Homo sapiens: one gene and its partner. The protein of the gene in region 2 interacts with the protein of the main gene of each other region in a biochemical or structural test. Each region holds a gene or a part of one and is shown on either strand. Other genes may lie near its edges.

What was found. Proteins that work in one complex are often made in the same cells at the same time.
Region 1: the proteins of ESR2 (region 2) and RBFOX2 form a complex in vitro, tested with the Homo sapiens proteins (one study listed by BioGRID).

Annotation. Positions count from the first base shown.
Region 1 is NC_000022.11:35,759,320-35,767,680, reverse strand, and holds part of RBFOX2 (RNA binding protein fox-1 homolog 2), read left to right. Parts: intron 1-2,197; coding exon 2,198-2,258; intron 2,259-6,212; coding exon 6,213-6,266; intron 6,267-6,386; coding exon 6,387-6,479; intron 6,480-7,648; coding exon of another isoform or gene 7,649-7,660; coding exon 7,661-7,793; intron 7,794-8,361. UniProt on the Homo sapiens protein: RNA-binding protein that regulates alternative splicing events by binding to 5'-UGCAUGU-3' elements. Prevents binding of U2AF2 to the 3'-splice site.
Region 2 is NC_000014.9:64,276,131-64,284,491, forward strand, and holds part of ESR2 (estrogen receptor beta), read right to left. Parts: intron 6,946-8,361; 5' UTR 6,856-6,945; coding exon 6,494-6,855; intron 4,024-6,493; coding exon 3,851-4,023; intron 1-3,850.

The DNA of each region.
Region 1 (8,361 bases), on a different chromosome or scaffold from region 2:
ATCTAAATTTTTATGGATAAAATTCTTAAACAGAGGGTATGATGGCTGGCTGGCGAATGTACTGTGATTATGACCAAGTCTACCGCCTGGTATTCACCAGCCCTTTTTGATAACACATCGAAGGTTAACTGGCTCCTTTCCCCTTTCCCAATTTTTTAAAGTATTAAATGTAAAAGCCACCATTTTGAGTAAGATGTCTGCATATTTTGCTTTTTTTCCCCTCCTTTCCAATGGTTTAGCATTTAGGGCCCTTCACTTGACTCACTCTTTCCATGGTAACTATACACAATGCTGGCGATGGTGCCCGTTGGCGGTAAGTGAACAAAAGCACTAGAGAAGAAGCTTTTAAAAATGTAATTACAAAACAATTAAATAAGAAAGAAAAAGTCCATCTGCCATCTCACATTAACACTACAAAATGTGATTTGACTTGTTGTTCCTCTTCCTTTTCCTTTCCCCCTTTTATTTTCAATGCTGTTGAGTAATGCCGCCTGGATTTTGGATGTACATATTGTTTTGTAGCGGTCTGAGCTGTTTGATTACTGACTTCATGGTGATTTTTTTCCCCTTGCACATCTTACTCAGAGTTACTGAACTCCAGTTTGGCTGGTTTTATTAATGCACTTCCTGCCCCTACATCCTTCCCTACTTTTCCTGTTTCCCAAACCCCCGTTTGTAGCTCTGACTGTTCTTTCTTTGCCCGTTACACCCTTCCTGACTTTCTCTTTTCTTTTTCCCTACCTTACTCTCTTTTTCCGGATCCTTGTTCCTGTCCCTTTCCCTATTCTTCCTTTCCCATCCCTTCAGTTACACGCAGCTGTTGGTCTCTTTTGCTGACTGGTGGTTTCTGATTGGTTCTGGCCATTTTTCCTTTTAAGTGCTTGGTTGCTTTCTGCTCCAGCAGCTGGTTTCAGCTCTTGCTCCATTCTAATCCTTGTCTGTGAGAACCTTGCTTTTCAGTTTCTCCCCTCTTTCCAAAATTGATTGTTTTTTCTTTCTTTTATTTGTGTGTGTGTGTTTTTTAACTGCATGCTCTCAGTCTCATCATTGTTGTATCCCATTCTTTCTTTTTAAATGTGAAACGTTTATATTATTTGGTGGGCGAAGCTAGAGTAAATGGAGTTTCAAGCTCTTTCCTCATATGGGGGATTATCACTGTACAAATCTTAAAAGACATAGGAAGAGGTTTTTTTTTTAGTTCTAATTCTACCTAAAATTGGTCTTTTCATAACAAAAATTTATTACCATACAAATTGAACACAATGTAAATTTGAAGAGGCAAAAATAAGACATTTATATTTTATGCTTCTTTTTTCAATTGGCATGTTTTATGACCTGACAACACAGTATAAGTCAAGTTCTATGGTGGAGCTTTACCCTCCTTGCAAGAGCTTTGAGACTGGTTCTGTCACTGGGCTGCAGTATGCTGACATCTTAGTTCCATTCATCTTTTCTTCAGCAGCAGCATCTTTGTAACACCTACTTACTCTAGCACTGAGAATGCTTTAAAATATGCAGTTCTGTAATGAGGGTGGAGAGTACCATAAAACAAAATAAATAAACACTTTATTTTCTCAATTCTTTTAAGTGCCTACTTTAAAGGCTTTCTTAAAAGCTTTGTTCTTAAATTGATAGACCATGTAGTCTAGAAAATTCAGAATGGTCCTGAAGGCTGTCAGCAGGGGAATCTTAGGTTTCTATATTTGTTTACTTACCTCAGACAGTAAAAATCTCTGACAGACATATTTAAAATGCTGAACATTAGGACAGGTGAAATCAGATTTATTTTATCACCTTTCCATCAATCTATTTCATAACCCATGTGGCAAGCCTCTGTTTTATTAACAGACTTCAAAGTGAATTGCTAATATAGTTTCCTATTTACTTTTTTCTGTGTTTTCCTTAGTGCAGAGATTTCTCTGTTAAAAAGATGTCCAAAGATCTTGCAAATGTATTTTCTTTGGAGTACTGATATTTGGAAACCAAGAAACTCACTTTACTCTTGTTATCCTCATTTGATAAGAACTTTAATTAAAATACTATATATTAATATTTTATATTGCTGTGTTAATTATTTAAATCACTGCTCTCAGAAATTTACATTTTAAACTAAATACTCTGTTATTGGATGTGCAACTTTATGTTCCCTAATGTGGTCCACTTCTTCCCTGCCCTTTTTTCTCCTTGTTATTTTTAGGTGAATAATGCTACAGCACGTGTAATGACCAATAAGAAGATGGTCACACCATATGCAAATGGTAAGAAATTATAATCTTCGAAAGAGTGTTTATTCTTGTGTAAATATATGAAGTTTTTATAAACTTCTAAGAATGTCTTTATTTCCGTCTTAAGACAGTTTGATTTGTGTTGAAGTAGTCTCTTTACCTGGGAGAGTATTTTATTTTTACAGAATAACTTTGTCATTACAATTGAGCTAAGTTTTTAGTTATTAAGGTGTTATGTTCTAAGTAATGTTCATCTTTTACACAGTGCAAACATGCTATCTAGTTGCCTATTAACCCAAATTGGATCCCACCTGAGCACCTTCTTTTTCAGCTGCTGTAGCTCTTTCTAATATGTTAGACTTGTCCGTAATACCCCTGGATGCCCACTGACTCTTACTTTTAGTTCTGACTTTCATTCATCTGAGCATAAGTGGAATAAATTAGGAGGATATTTTAATCACTTTTATAATTCTGGACCTGTTGCTCTCCTTAGCCCTAGAGATAACAGCCATGGGTATGGTTGTGTGTGTATCATTTTCTGTTTCATGATTACATATTATATAGTAAGGTTTATAAGTTTTTCTCATTGAGAAGGAAATTTTCTATGAATAATTTGTTACATCAGTTACCAAATTTAATCTAGACTCATGGTCTCTGAATGAGATGGAATATAAATTTAATCTGTAGCCCAGTGGTGGTTTTGCAGACTGTTCTGCAGAGCCAGTTTGGGAGAGAAAAAGGAAACCAAATGGATTGAATTCTGAGGTCTCAGCTGTACTTTAGTCTGAGCAATTAGGGTTCTGCATAAGCTTTTACTAATATCTAGAATAAAGGGGGGAGTTTCTGCTGGAGTTTTTTTTTTTTTTTTTTTGAGACGGAGTCTCGCTTTGTCACCCAGGCTGGAGTGCACTGGCGCAATCAAGGCTCACTGCAAGCTCTGCTTCCCAGGTTCACGCCATTCTCCTGCCCTCAGCCTCCCGAGTAGCTGGGACTACAGGCGCCCGCCACCACACCTGGCTAATTTTTTGTATTTTTAGTAGAGATGGGGTTTCACCGTGTTAGCCAGGATGGTCTCAACCTCCTGACCTCGTGATCCGCCCACCGTGGCCTCCCAAAGTGCTGGGATTACAGGCGTGAGCCACCATGCCTGGCTCTGCTGTTTTTTTAAAAAGTTTGAACCCACTGCTAGAGTATGGCTGTATGTGCTAATAATGTCTTAAATCAAGGAGAAATGTATCCGTATTGACTATATCCCATAAAGTCTTCAATAAATATATTTAGCCCAGCTTTTCACATAGATGATACAAATTTATCAGCATAATTTGCATTTTTCCTTACTCCTTTTATCGGTATGATACCACTGCCTCCCACTTTACCTCTTATTTTCTTTTCACTGCTCTTACAAAAACAAGTCTCTACAATTTTGATAAAAACTCAAAGTAAACAAAATAGAAAGGAGAGGCAAAGAATGTCAAATTTTCTTTACATCTAAGGGAAATATTGTGACAGAAAGAGCCTCTGACTGGAATTCAGAAAACAGACGTTCTCCTTCTAGGTTTGACTCTTTATTTACTCCGTGACAGTGGACCAGTTTTTTAACCTAATTCTGTTTTCATATTTATAAATTGAGACCACAGATTTTTGGCACCAGGATTTTTTAAGAAATTATTGAAACTCAACCCTCCCAGCTTATTATTAGGAAATGAGACCCAGAAAAGTATAGTATTGACCTCAGATTGCAGATGTGGTATCTATTTTACCTTCCTCTTTGGGTTTTGTGAAGGTCAAAGGGCATCTGTGAAAATACATTGTAAATTTTCTAAAACTAAATATATTCAAAGTATTACTAACAACATGTCAATATACATCCATTATATTGATTTTTGTTTTTGTTTTGAGGCAGAGTCTCTCTGTCACCTAGGCTGGAGTACAGTGGTGCGATCTCAGCTCACTGCAACCTCCACTTCCCGGGTTCAAGCGATACTCGTGCCTCAGCCTCCAGAGTAGCTGGGATTACAGGTGTGTGCCACCACATCCGGCTAATTTTTGTATTTTTAGTAGAGACGAGGTTTTGCCATGTTGGCCAGGCTGGTCTCGAGCTCCTAGACTCAGGTGATCCCTCCGCCTCAGCCTCCCAAAGTGCTGGGATTACAGGCTTGAGCTACGGTGCCTGCCCATTATGTGGATTTAAAGGGAATGCTCAGGCAATAGTGGCATTGGTAGGAAAGAAAAAGGTTATTTTTTAAAATATTATTCTAAATTAATATTCAGGTTTAGTAGGCAAGAAACCTTCTGCTATTGTGTTAAAGGTCCTAAGAAGAATTTGTTGGGTTCCTCCTAATGAATTCTCAGTCAGCATTCTCATTTAGGTTGGTTGGAATCTCTTAATTTGTGCAGAAATGTTGCACAGTATTTGTGTAATTTGATGTTGCAGAATATTTGTGTTCTTACAATTCAAGTAGGATTTGAACCTAGATTTTGCCAGAATTTTATGTGGAATATTGAAGAGACATTGCATTTTATGAGCACATAAAATGATGAATAAGAGATTGGATTGAATCAGAGTGAATAGGTTTTCACTTGAATAATGTCTTGCTTACAGTCATTTAAATCTGGTAATTTCAATAATTCTTTTGAAAAGGCCAATTGTGGCTGGACGCAGTGGCTCAAGCCTGTAATCCCCAGCACTCTGGGAGGCTGAGGCGGGTGGATCACCTGAGGTTAGGAGTTCAAGACCAGCCTGGCCAACATGGTGAAACCCCATCTCTACTAAAAGTATAAAACTAGCCAGGCATGGTGGCACGTGCCTGTAGTCCCAGCTACTTGGGAGGCTGAGGCATGAGAATCACTTGAACCCAGGAGCCGAGGTTGTGGTGAGCCGAAACTGCGCCACTGCACTCCAGCCTGGGTGACAGAGCAAGACTCTGTCTCAAAAAAAAAAAAAAAAAAAAAGAGGAGGCCAATTCTGGCCTTTTTCTTTTCATTCGTATATTTATAGAATAGTGTGGCACAATGCTAGGGTCTTAATATAAAAAGACAAATGAGTCAGAAAATATATAATATAGAGTATTTTTGCTTATATGTAAAATTCAGTTAATATTGATTAAAGTTTTCATGTGGAATTCTACTTTTATTCACTCGCAGTGAGCAATCGTATATTATTCCTTTTTAAAAAATACTTGCCATATTCCTATAAATATAAAAAAGGGAAAGAAGAAATAAAGTTGACATTAAACATAATGTTATTTGGAAACTCTTAATATTTATAAATATTTAAGCTAATGTTCCACAGTATTCTGGTGTTCTTTAGCTAAGAAGTCTGATTAACTTAAAGGTGATTATTACACATTAAAGCCTCAGAAAACATGCACTGAAGTTGGGAATGTACCTTGAATTTTACTATTTCATGTCTTTCCTTTTTTAGTTGGTGAACCCCAGTAAAATCCCAATGGTAAATCCGAGTAAAAGTGGATTTCAGTTTACCTGGAATACCAGCATTGTATAGCCAAACATGGAGTCAAAGATCTAGGTTGAATTTGAGTTCAGCCCATGGATACCTTTATTAAAACAACTAGAGTAATAAACAGGGTTGAGAAAATGCATCACAGCATGGTTCAGAGTGACATATAGTCGGCCTTCTTTTTTTAAATGAAGGATAGGTCATCCAGGGTAATTCTGTGAGAACACTTTACCAAACTCTAGGATTTATTTCTATTTATTTTTTCTCCTCTCATTCCCTCTCCATCTTCCTCCTCCCAACATCATGACACCTGCCAAGCCCCCCAGCCCCAGCCCCTCATTATCTCTTCACTGTGTCCTAGTTCTACTACTGTTACTCTCTCATATAAACCCCAAGCTGGAATTCCAAAGAGAAGTTGATAATAGGCAAAAATAGCCCCAGAGATGGCTGAAGCCAACTTGACATGCACTGATCATCCCTTTCCTCAAACAGTCTTAAATGCTTACCTTCCATTTTGTGTGTTTCAGGTTGGAAATTAAGCCCAGTAGTTGGAGCTGTATATGGTCCGGAGTTATATGCAGGTAGTATTTAAGTAAATGTTTCCACTTGTGCTATTTAATTGTAATAGCATCTGCTGTTTTTCAATTTGTGACTCCTTTTTAATCTTCTTGCATTTTTAAATTTTTTAAAAATCCAATCAGCATCCAGCTTTCAAGCAGATGTGTCCCTAGGCAATGATGCAGCAGTGCCCCTATCAGGAAGAGGGGGTATCAACACTTACATTCCTTTAATCAGTAAGTAGCCTATGTTGGCCTGGCATGGATTTTGACTGTTGTGAGTGAACTATCATGTACTGTTTTTTTTTTTCCTAGTACAGTACATAACTGAAATGGAAATTTCTTGAGAGGGATATTAAATACTATCCCAGTGCCCTGTCCTGCTTAACCTGTGCTAGAATTTTCCTGACCAAATATTAAGATTGCACAAAGCAGAAATAGTTGGAAAAGGTAGAGGGGGTAAGGGCATATGAAGAATATTTTAGTCTGTACTTGACGATAAAGAAAACAAAAGAAGCAAGTATGTGTAGAGCATATTATACATTTCCTCTGCGAGTCAGCCACAGGTTCTCCAGCAGAGGATCACTTAGAAGTACTTCCAGTATTATTGATTATTCCCAGCTCTCTTGATCTCTCTAAGTCATTTTGACCTGAGCCATTTTACTCCAGCAAGAGGTATAATTAAACAGGATTCAGTGGACATGGAATCAATGTCTCTGCATGCTTTCCAGAGGACAGCACACTTAAAATAGGCTCTTAGAAATTGTCTGCCTCTTTAAAGGATATGAGGCCCCTAGAAATTGTCTGCCTCTTTAAAGGACAGGGTAGGAGTTGTTTCCCTCACCTTACATTTGTGGATTAAAATGTTTTAAATAAAAGAATGAAATTGACTAATGAAATGAAATGTCTAAAGACTATTATGTGCCTTAGAGGTTGGTACCATGTAAAAATATAAAAAGAATGTTCTTTTGAGTAATAATTATTATGTGGACATAGTAACATTGGGAAGCAAGGTTAATAACTGACCGGTTGAAGAGTTTGTGTCAATCTGATTTAGACTGCCCACAGTAATTAAAAGTCTGTCTCTTATTATGGCAGTCATTCTCAGAGCTTCTTGACCTGTTTCTCAGCAGCTTGCATTGTAAAGCTGAAATTGAGAAGGAACAGAGAAGCTCACTCAAGATTTGTGATGAATGAGGCATGGAATCTTTTGCTTTTGCATGTTGGGTCTCTCTTTCCATTTCTTCCCCACTGAGAGACCCAGGGTAGAACGTTTATTGAATGCATGCCACCTTTTCCAAAAAGGTGTGGTTCGTATCTTTCCATCTTTTCTATAATTGGTTCATAGCAAGTTGTGACTGTGCACCTTCTATTGAATGCAAGTTGAAATTTCTGTCATATTTTGGGTCTCCCTTTAGTTCCTGGCTTCCCTTACCCTACTGCAGCCACCACGGCAGCCGCTTTCAGAGGAGCCCATTTGAGGGGCAGAGGGCGGACAGTATATGGTGCAGTCCGAGCGGTACCTCCAACAGCCATCCCCGCCTATCCAGGGTAAGCGTTAGATTCCAAAATCAGTATGTTTCTAAAATAAGCAGTTGGACCAAAAAAGAATACCATGGCCCTTTCATAACTTCTGGGATGTTGCCGTGTCACAGAGTAGGCATTCAGTGAATATTTGCAAATTAACAGATTAGATGACAAAAAACAAAATATACCATCATCAGAATGTGACAAACTGTCAATTCATTATAAGTCTTCATTTTGGCCACCTTAAGCCCTCATGGTAATGGCTTAAGACAGTAGCCAGAACCGTCTTGTGTTTACTAGCAGTGTGTTGGCATGAAGTTCACTCAGAAGCGCACGAATATGGATTAACATTACTGCAGAGAACCAAAAGAGGAGCTCAAGATTGTAGTACAAGCCTGCATCTGCTGTGTTCACCTCCTTATCACCACCCCGTGTTGGGGCAGAGGCTGTCACATGTGTCCTCCCCTTTGGTTTCACTGCCTGGGTGGTGAGCAGCAGAGCTAGTTACCCACAATGGATTTGCTTTCTTTGTAGGAAACGGATTAAAAGAGGTTAATTCTAAGATGAACCAAGTCCAATTGAATCAAGGGAG
Region 2 (8,361 bases):
TATACACAAAACTATCAAAGTTGGTAATATTTGACTATTTAAAGATTAACTATTTCTGCATATCAAAATCAGAGTCAAGTGGAAAAAATATTTGTCATACATGTAATAATAGGTTAATATATAAAGCACACAATAAATTTATCAAGCAAATGCCAGAACCCAATATAAAAACGGGCAAAATCTCTGAATAAAGAAGATAAAAGAGAAAATACAAATGGCAGATAGATTTATGAGAAAACATTTACCTCACTAATAAAGAGAAGCAAATTGAAACCAAAAGATACTATACATCACGTATCAATGTAGCAAGGTTTTTTTCTTTTTGATAAGAGTCAATGCTACCAAGAGGTTGGAAAAAGCGACACTCACACTGCTGGTAAAAGAGCAAGTCTGTACAACCTTCTTAAGACTTGAACACTTGAAAACATCTGTCAAGAACTTTAAACATTAATGCACTCTGACCCCACAGATTTGTTCTAAAAACATATCCAGAGAAACTTATTTTTTTCAAAACTTCATGAACAAATAAAGTAACCATAGCATTAAAACAATGAAAATAATTGATAGGGCCTTCAATAATAAAGAGTTAAATAAATTAAATCTGATCATAAGATAGAATATTACACAGTTGTGCAGTTGTGAAAAGGGTCTCTGGAAATTTAACAACAGAAATGCTTATACGACAATATTAAGTGAAAAATGATACAGAACTCTGTGTATAAGCCCAATTAATTTTGAAAAATCATATTCAAGGAATTGGTAAGTGCCACTAGTGAACAAAATGGACAAAAATCCTTGCCCTCATGGAATCTATAATCTATTGTCTTGTTCACCACTGCATCCGTAGAGCCTGGTACAATGCTCAATAAATATTTGTTAAATGAACACCAATAGGAAAGAGAACAAAAAGTAAAGGATAAGCTCAAAAAATAAGCCATGCTGTCATCTGGACCAGATGAAGTGATGAGGTCCTTCTCCCTATGTCCTCCTTCCTCTGTGCTCCATAACCCAGTAGAGAAACAACAGCACTTATCACTCTGATGGCAACTCATTGTGTGAAGAAGCCAACAAAGTATCAATGGAAAAGCAAGCACAACACAGCTTCCAGTGCATTTGTACAGTGAAGGGGACAGGTACATGACTAAGATATGGTCAATTAGCTTATAAATCAAGTTAGCAAGACAAGTTTAAAATTATAAAAAACATAAGAATGGGCCAGGTGCGGTGGCTCACACCTGTAATCCCAGCACTTTGGGAGGCCGAGGCGGGCGGATCACAAGGTCAGGAGATCGAGACCATCCTGGCTAACATGCCGAAACCCTGTCTCTACTAAAAATACAAAAAATTAGCAGGGTGTGGTGGCCAGCTCCTGTAATCCCAGCTACTTGGGAGTCTGAGGCAGGAGAATGGTGTGAATCTGGGAGGCAGAGCTTGCAGTGAGCCGAGATTGTGCCACTGCACTCCAGCCTGGGTGACAGAATGAGACTCCATCTCCAAAAAAAAAAAAAAAAAAAAAAAAGTTACATGCAAGGAATTTCTCAATACTGTACCATCCTGGCCTATTTGAGACAATTTTAAAAATAAGTGGCCACTTTCAGTTACTGTAATGCACTTATATCAAAGACAGGAAGCATGCAAAGAAAGGATCATTTAGGCACTACAACTGTACAACTGTAACAGCTTTAACTCTTTCCTCTTTGCACATTTAGAATTTGACATTCCTGTCTGATGCAGCAGGAAGGAAGAAACAACATAGAGAAGCAAAGGAAATTTACTTTCAATTGTTATTAGCTGTAGTCTCAGGGGTCAAAGATGTTTCAAGCAGACCAATGTTTCCCCAAAAGCAAAAAAAAAAAAGAAGGATCTCTTTTTAAAAGATATGGTTAGTAGTAATAGGTCCAAACGTTCTTAAGGGGTAAAATCCTAGAAACTCAGCAAGATACAAAATAGTCATCGTATCAAGAATTCAGTTCAGAATTTCAGAAAATCAATATTGTTCTTATCATATAGCCAGGAAATGGACTTGGCCTTATAATCTACTGTTAAGATTGTCACAAATAAAATATTTGAGCACTGAATATGTTTTCATATAATCAACCTTATTTCATCTTTAGAAAATCCCTATGAGTATCTCCATTTCACAGAGGAGGAAACAGGCTAGGAGGTGAAGTCGCAGAGCTAGTAATTATAAAATCCAGGACAAAGAGGCTGCCATTCATACAGGGTGAATTTCAGGGGACAGGTAGGAAGGTGACTACCAACATTTCACTCCTCACCATATCCTGGATTCTATCAGTATTTCTCTGCTTAAGGTAAAACATCCTCTTAGAGTTATCAATGGGTGAGTTAATTTAGTAAATTGCTATTTGCCATTTACACACTATGAATTCTCTCAACGTTGCTTTTCTTAACTGGCAAAGAACAAAGCATTGGGGCTTTGATAGAAAAAGGAAGGGAGCTTTCAGATGGAAACATAGGGTGTTGCCTGGGAGGGAGCAGTTGAGGGACAGGTTATGGGGCAAATAGAGAAAACAAGAGTAAGCAAGAAAGTGACTTCAGCAAATCAGGGCTGGTACGAGAGAAGGAGTGTAGCAAAGACACATGCAGGGAGATGAGCTGACCAGCCTTGAAATCAGGGGTGCACAACTTGAAGTTTATAAACCAAAAAATAAAATTCTAAGGCCCCTCAACCATCTGAATGGGTCCCTCCTCTTGGCCAAGGGCATTACAAAGTTAACCTGAAAAATAAGTTTAGGCCATGATGGAACAAGGGAGACAGACATGGTTCATTATACCCTCCCTCCCCTTTTGGAATCACTGATAGAACAGACCCTTTAAGACCCCTAAGAAATATTTACAATCTATTCTCTCTGAAGCCTGCTACCTGGAGGCTTCATCTGCATGATAAAACCTTGGTCTCCACAATCCCTTATTGTAACCCAATCATTGCTTCCTACTGATAATAATTCTTTCAATCAATTGCCAATCAGAAAATCTTTGAACTGCCTGTGACTTGGAAGCCCCTGCTTTCAGGTGTCCTGCCTTTTCAGGCTGAATCAATGTACATCTTACATGCATTGATTAATGCCTTATGTCTCCCTAAAATGTATAAGACCAAGTTGTGGCCTGACCACCTTGGGCACATGTTCTCAGATCTCCTGAGGGCTATGTCACAGGCCATTTGTCACTCATATTTGGCTCAGAATAAATCTCTTCAAATATTTTACAGAGTTTGATTCTTTTCATCAACAAGTTGATTTAAAAAAAAAAATCCAGAAGGCGTTTAGAGAAAGTTAGGGAAATAATCTAAACACAGCCCAGAAAACAAGGGGATTGTGAACTGAGACCCTCCTAGCCTAGGGGAAGAAATGTGTCTAGATCAATTCTCAAAGTCCACTGTAGCTGAATTCCTGATTTCTGACCATTTCCAAAAAATGTGTTTATTCTTTCTTCCTCAGGAGCCAGCCCACCATCATGACTGTTAAGCATGCTATATATTAAATTTAAGTAAAAGAAAGAAACAATCTTTGCAACTCCTTGTGAGCACATTTTTTCCAAGAGACATCTTCACAAGGTTGTAACTCGATGTCTTCTATCCAACACCCATGTGGGTGAACGAGGGGTAAGACCCATTCGAGTTGGCTGTATAATCTTGGGGTTCTGGGGTAGAAATCTGCAATTCCACCCCACCACCCAACCCACTTCCAAACACACATGATCCTCTGAACTGCTCATCAAATACTTTGTGTGCCAAACAGGCCAGTAGTGACATTTCTGCCAAGTCATCTCTGCAAAATTGTTTGAAATCAAAAGTAGGAAACTAAAGAAGCAGTTAACAATTCTCTTGTACCTTGAATGCTTCTTTTAAAAAAGGCCTTACATCCTTCACACGACCAGACTCCATAGTGATATCCCGATGCGTAATCGCTGCAGACAGCGCAGAAGTGAGCATCCCTCTTTGAACCTGGACCAGTAACAGGGCTGGCGCAACGGTTCCCACTAACCTTCCTTTTCAGTGTCTCTCTAGGGAGCAAAGAAAATATCCATTGAACAGAGCATAAAAGGGAAAGGAAGGGCTTTCTAGGAAAAAAAAATAGCATGAACATTGCCTAATTTAATCTCTTTTTCCTCCAGGGTTCCTGGTAAATATATTCCCGGAAATCTGATACAGCAAAGCTTTTGATACTGATATCATATCTACAAAGAGCCACGCTGTGGGGAATGACTAATGTTTGAAAGTGGGTAGGTGAGTTTATGCCCATCCACGTGATGCTGATGAGCATTTGTCACTGCCGAAGACCAGTCATAGCCATGGGGTGGGAGCTACATCTCTAAGTGTAATGAAAGGAGTGGCCAGATCAAATCTTACCCACAGGTCTGAACCACAGGCAGGATATGCATTGGTCTTCTGTAGTTACTAGAGTTCACGAATGCTGCATGGATGGGTGTGAAGGCATTCAACCACTTCCAAACATCAGTCATTCCCAACAGCATTGCTAAGCAGCCCTTCAGACATTTGAAGTTCCCATTTAAATGGAGAACAAACATCTCACACTCTGCAATTTCAGATAAAGGTCTAGATTTAAAATAACTTTCAGGTTGGGCGCAATGGTTCATGCCTGTAATCCTAGCACATTGGGGAGCCAAGGTGGGCGTATCACCTGAGGCCAGAAGTTCGAGACCAGCTTGGCCAACAAGGTGAAACCCTATCTCTACTAAAAATACAAAAATTAGCCAGACATGGTGGTGCACACCTGTAATCCCAGCTACTTTGGAGGATGAAGCAGGAGATTGCTTGAACCCGGGAGGCAGAGGTTGCAGTGAGCCAAGACTGTGCCACTGCACTCCAGCCTGGGCAACAGAGTGAGACTCCATCTCAAAAAAATAAAATAAAAATAACTTTAAGAGGAATAACAAATGGACTTTAAGTTACCTTGAGATGAATGTGAGACAAGAAAAAGGGGGAAGAGAAGAGAAAGGGAGAGAGAAAAAAGAAGAGAGAAGAGAAGAGAGAGAACAAGCAAGTGCCTGGCCTGGAAAGGCTTGGAAGGAAGCAGAGGCTCAATGCTGGACCACAGGCAAGAGGTTCATAAAGGAACGAAAAGTCTAACAAGGGATCCCCAGGCAGCCTCCAAAACACATCTGGCTAGTTCCTGATGTTGCCAGGCATGGTTCTTTTGGAAAGGGAATGGTAAAGGTATTATTGATTTATAAATGAAGGTAATTATATAATGGATTAATTTGCCCAAAAATTAGCAGAACTTTGATTATAATTCATGCTCAGAAACAAAATATGTCTTCCTTTAAAGGAGGAAGGAGAAAAAAAAAACAAACCATTACTTTAAAAAAGTTATCCACAATGTTTATATTCTCTTTACCAATGAGTAAAATGTTTTTAAAAGAAGAAAAATAATGGTGCAATGTTACTGTCTCAAAGTTTTATGATAATATTTGAAAGTAGTGAATTTCAATATCCAACATGCCCTTAGTACTTTTAGATTTTTATCTCCCCCTCTCCTTTCTCATTATACTATCCATTCCCTTCATACCTATGATTATCATTAGAAATATTAATAATTAGATGGAAATAATCCATTATGTTACCTTGCATTTAAAGAGTACACATATCCTTTTTAACTTCAGGGAATGTCAACTGAAGCCTAAACTTCAATAGTTTCCACCAATCTTTATATAATGTTATTATTTTAGTTCATGGTTAAAAAGCTTATACCAATCATCTATCTTTTCATGCTTCGCATGTCTAGAATTTCATTTAAGTTGTAATACTATCACAGTTACTTTTATCCTGGAAACAATTTGTCATGAACATTAAATTGTGGTTTCACTATAAGAAGACTTTGAAACTGAAAGTAAAGTAAAAATTCATTTTTCAAATCCAAATAACTCCATTAAGAGTGACTTAAGTTCAGACCAGGCACAGTGTTCATCACGTCTGTAATCCCAGCACTTTGGGAGGCCAAGGCAGGTGGATCATTTGAGGTCAGGAGTTCAAGACCAGCCTAGCCAACATGGTGAAACCCTGTCTCTACTAAAAATTTAAAAAATGAGCTGGGCGTGGTGGCACGCGCCTGTAATCCCAGCTACTCGGGAGACTAAGGCACGAGAATTGCTTGAACCCAGGAGGTGAAGGTTGCAGTGAGCCGCAATCGTGCCATTATACTCCAGTCTGAGTGACAGAGCGAGACCCTGTCTCAAAAAAAGAAAAGGAGTGACTTAAGTTCAGTATTTACTGTATAAAGACAATAGTCATGATAGCAAATTCTCCCCACAACACTGATGTACACATACCAGTTTTTAATGAGAACTAAAATATCAGAATAGAACAGGGCATCCTGTGTTTTGGGTGCTGTAAGTAAACTATGTAATTAATACAATAAAGACCTTGTCTAACATATTATTTCCTTCTCACTCAACCATAAAGTGATTTGAGAAATGGCTAGCAACTATAATTCAGAATGAAGACTGGACTTACCTGTTTACAGGTAAGGTGTGTTCTAGCGATCTTGCTTCACACCAGGGACTCTTTTGAGGTTCCGCATACAGATGTGATAACTGGCGATGGACCACTAAAGGAGAAAGGTGCCCAGGTGTTGGCCACAACACATTTGGGCTTGTGGTCTGCCGACCAGGCCCACCTTCCAAGTTAGTGACATTGCTGGGAATGCTGTAATTCATCACAGCAGGGCTATAGAATGTCATGGCTGGATATTCATGGTGGCTGTCTACATAGGAGGAAGGTATGTATATGGAGCCGTGCTCCAGGGGTAAGATGGATTGACTGCAGTTGTAGGAGGAAGGAGAATTAAGGCTAGATGGTGAGTTTTTTATATCCATGTCTTGAGATAACAGCTGAGAAAACACCTTGCAAGAAGAGGCACAAAGGTCATTATAATGTTCTCAAAGATTCGTGGGCAAGTATAATGGCTGTAAAGAAACACAGAAGATATTGCCAAGTTAGAGCTACAGCTGTTAACTATGAAAATTTAAATATTTTCATTAAAAAAATACATACGTTTGTATGAGATTACAAATACATCCTGAAAAATATACATGAAAATATTAACCTCAGAGGAGTGGGAATGTGAGGCATGAAACTCACATTTTCTGCTTCATTCATCTCTTCATTGCTTGTTTGTTTAATCAAGAGTTTAAGCACAAGAGTTTAATCACGAAAATTTATTATAAAATAGTCTTTAAAACCAAAAAACACAGGATTAAATAAAAATGAAAGTTCTTATGGAAAAATAAGCAAGAATAACCAAGTAAACGCTAAGAGAAGATCAATGAGCAAGGCTAGTCTCAACCAATATTAAAATACGCTATGAGGCCAAGCGTAGTGGCTCACGCCTGTAATCCCAATACTTTGGGAGGCTGAGGTGGGCAGATTACTTGAGGTCAGGAGTTCGAGACCAGCCTGGGCAACATGGTGAAACCCCGTCTCTACTAAAAATTAGCCAGGAATGGTGGCATGTGCCTGTTGTCCCAGCTACTCAAGAGGCTGAGGTGTGATTGCTCAAGCCCAGGAGGCAGAGGTTGTAGTGAGCAGAGATTGTGCCACCGCGCTCCAGCCTGGGTGATAGAGTGAGACCCTGTCTCAAAAAAAAAAAAAAAAAAAAAAAAAGAGAGAAATTACCATTTCCGAAAAAAGTTTTTAAAAGAAAGAAAACACATTATGAATCTCCAATAATAAAAAACAATGGGTATTAGCTGAAGAGACTGACCAGTGTAACTGTGTCACTTATCAATCTGTTGCTTCTCAGTTTTGTTTTGTTTTGGTTTTGTCTTTGTTTTTGAGACAAGGTCTCACTCTGTCACCCAGGCTGGAGTGCAGTGGCATGATCTCGGCTCACTGCAACCTCCTGCCTCCCAGGTTCTAGTGATTCTCCTGCCTCAGCCTCACGAGTAGCTGAGACTATGGGTGCGCACCACTGTGACTGGCTAATTTGTTGTATTTTTTAGTAGGGATGGGGTTTCACCACGTTGGCCAGGCTGGTCTCAAACTCCTGATCTCGAGTGATCCACCTGCCTCGGTCTCCCAAAGTGCTGGGATTACAGGCATAAGTCACCATGCCTGGCCTACGTATCAGTTTTGAATGTGCCCTTCAATTTATGCTCTAAAAAACAGAATTTTTGTATGTAAAGTGAGCACAAGGCTGGGGGTGCTGGCTGATTACAGGCAAATCTTTTTTTTTGAGATGGAGTTTCACTCTTGTTGCCTAGGCTGGAGTGCAATGGCGCCATATCAGCTCACTGCAATCTCTGCCTCCCAGGTTCAAGCAATTATCATGTCTCAGCCTCCTGAGTAGCTGGGATTACAGGCATACACCACCACACTAATTT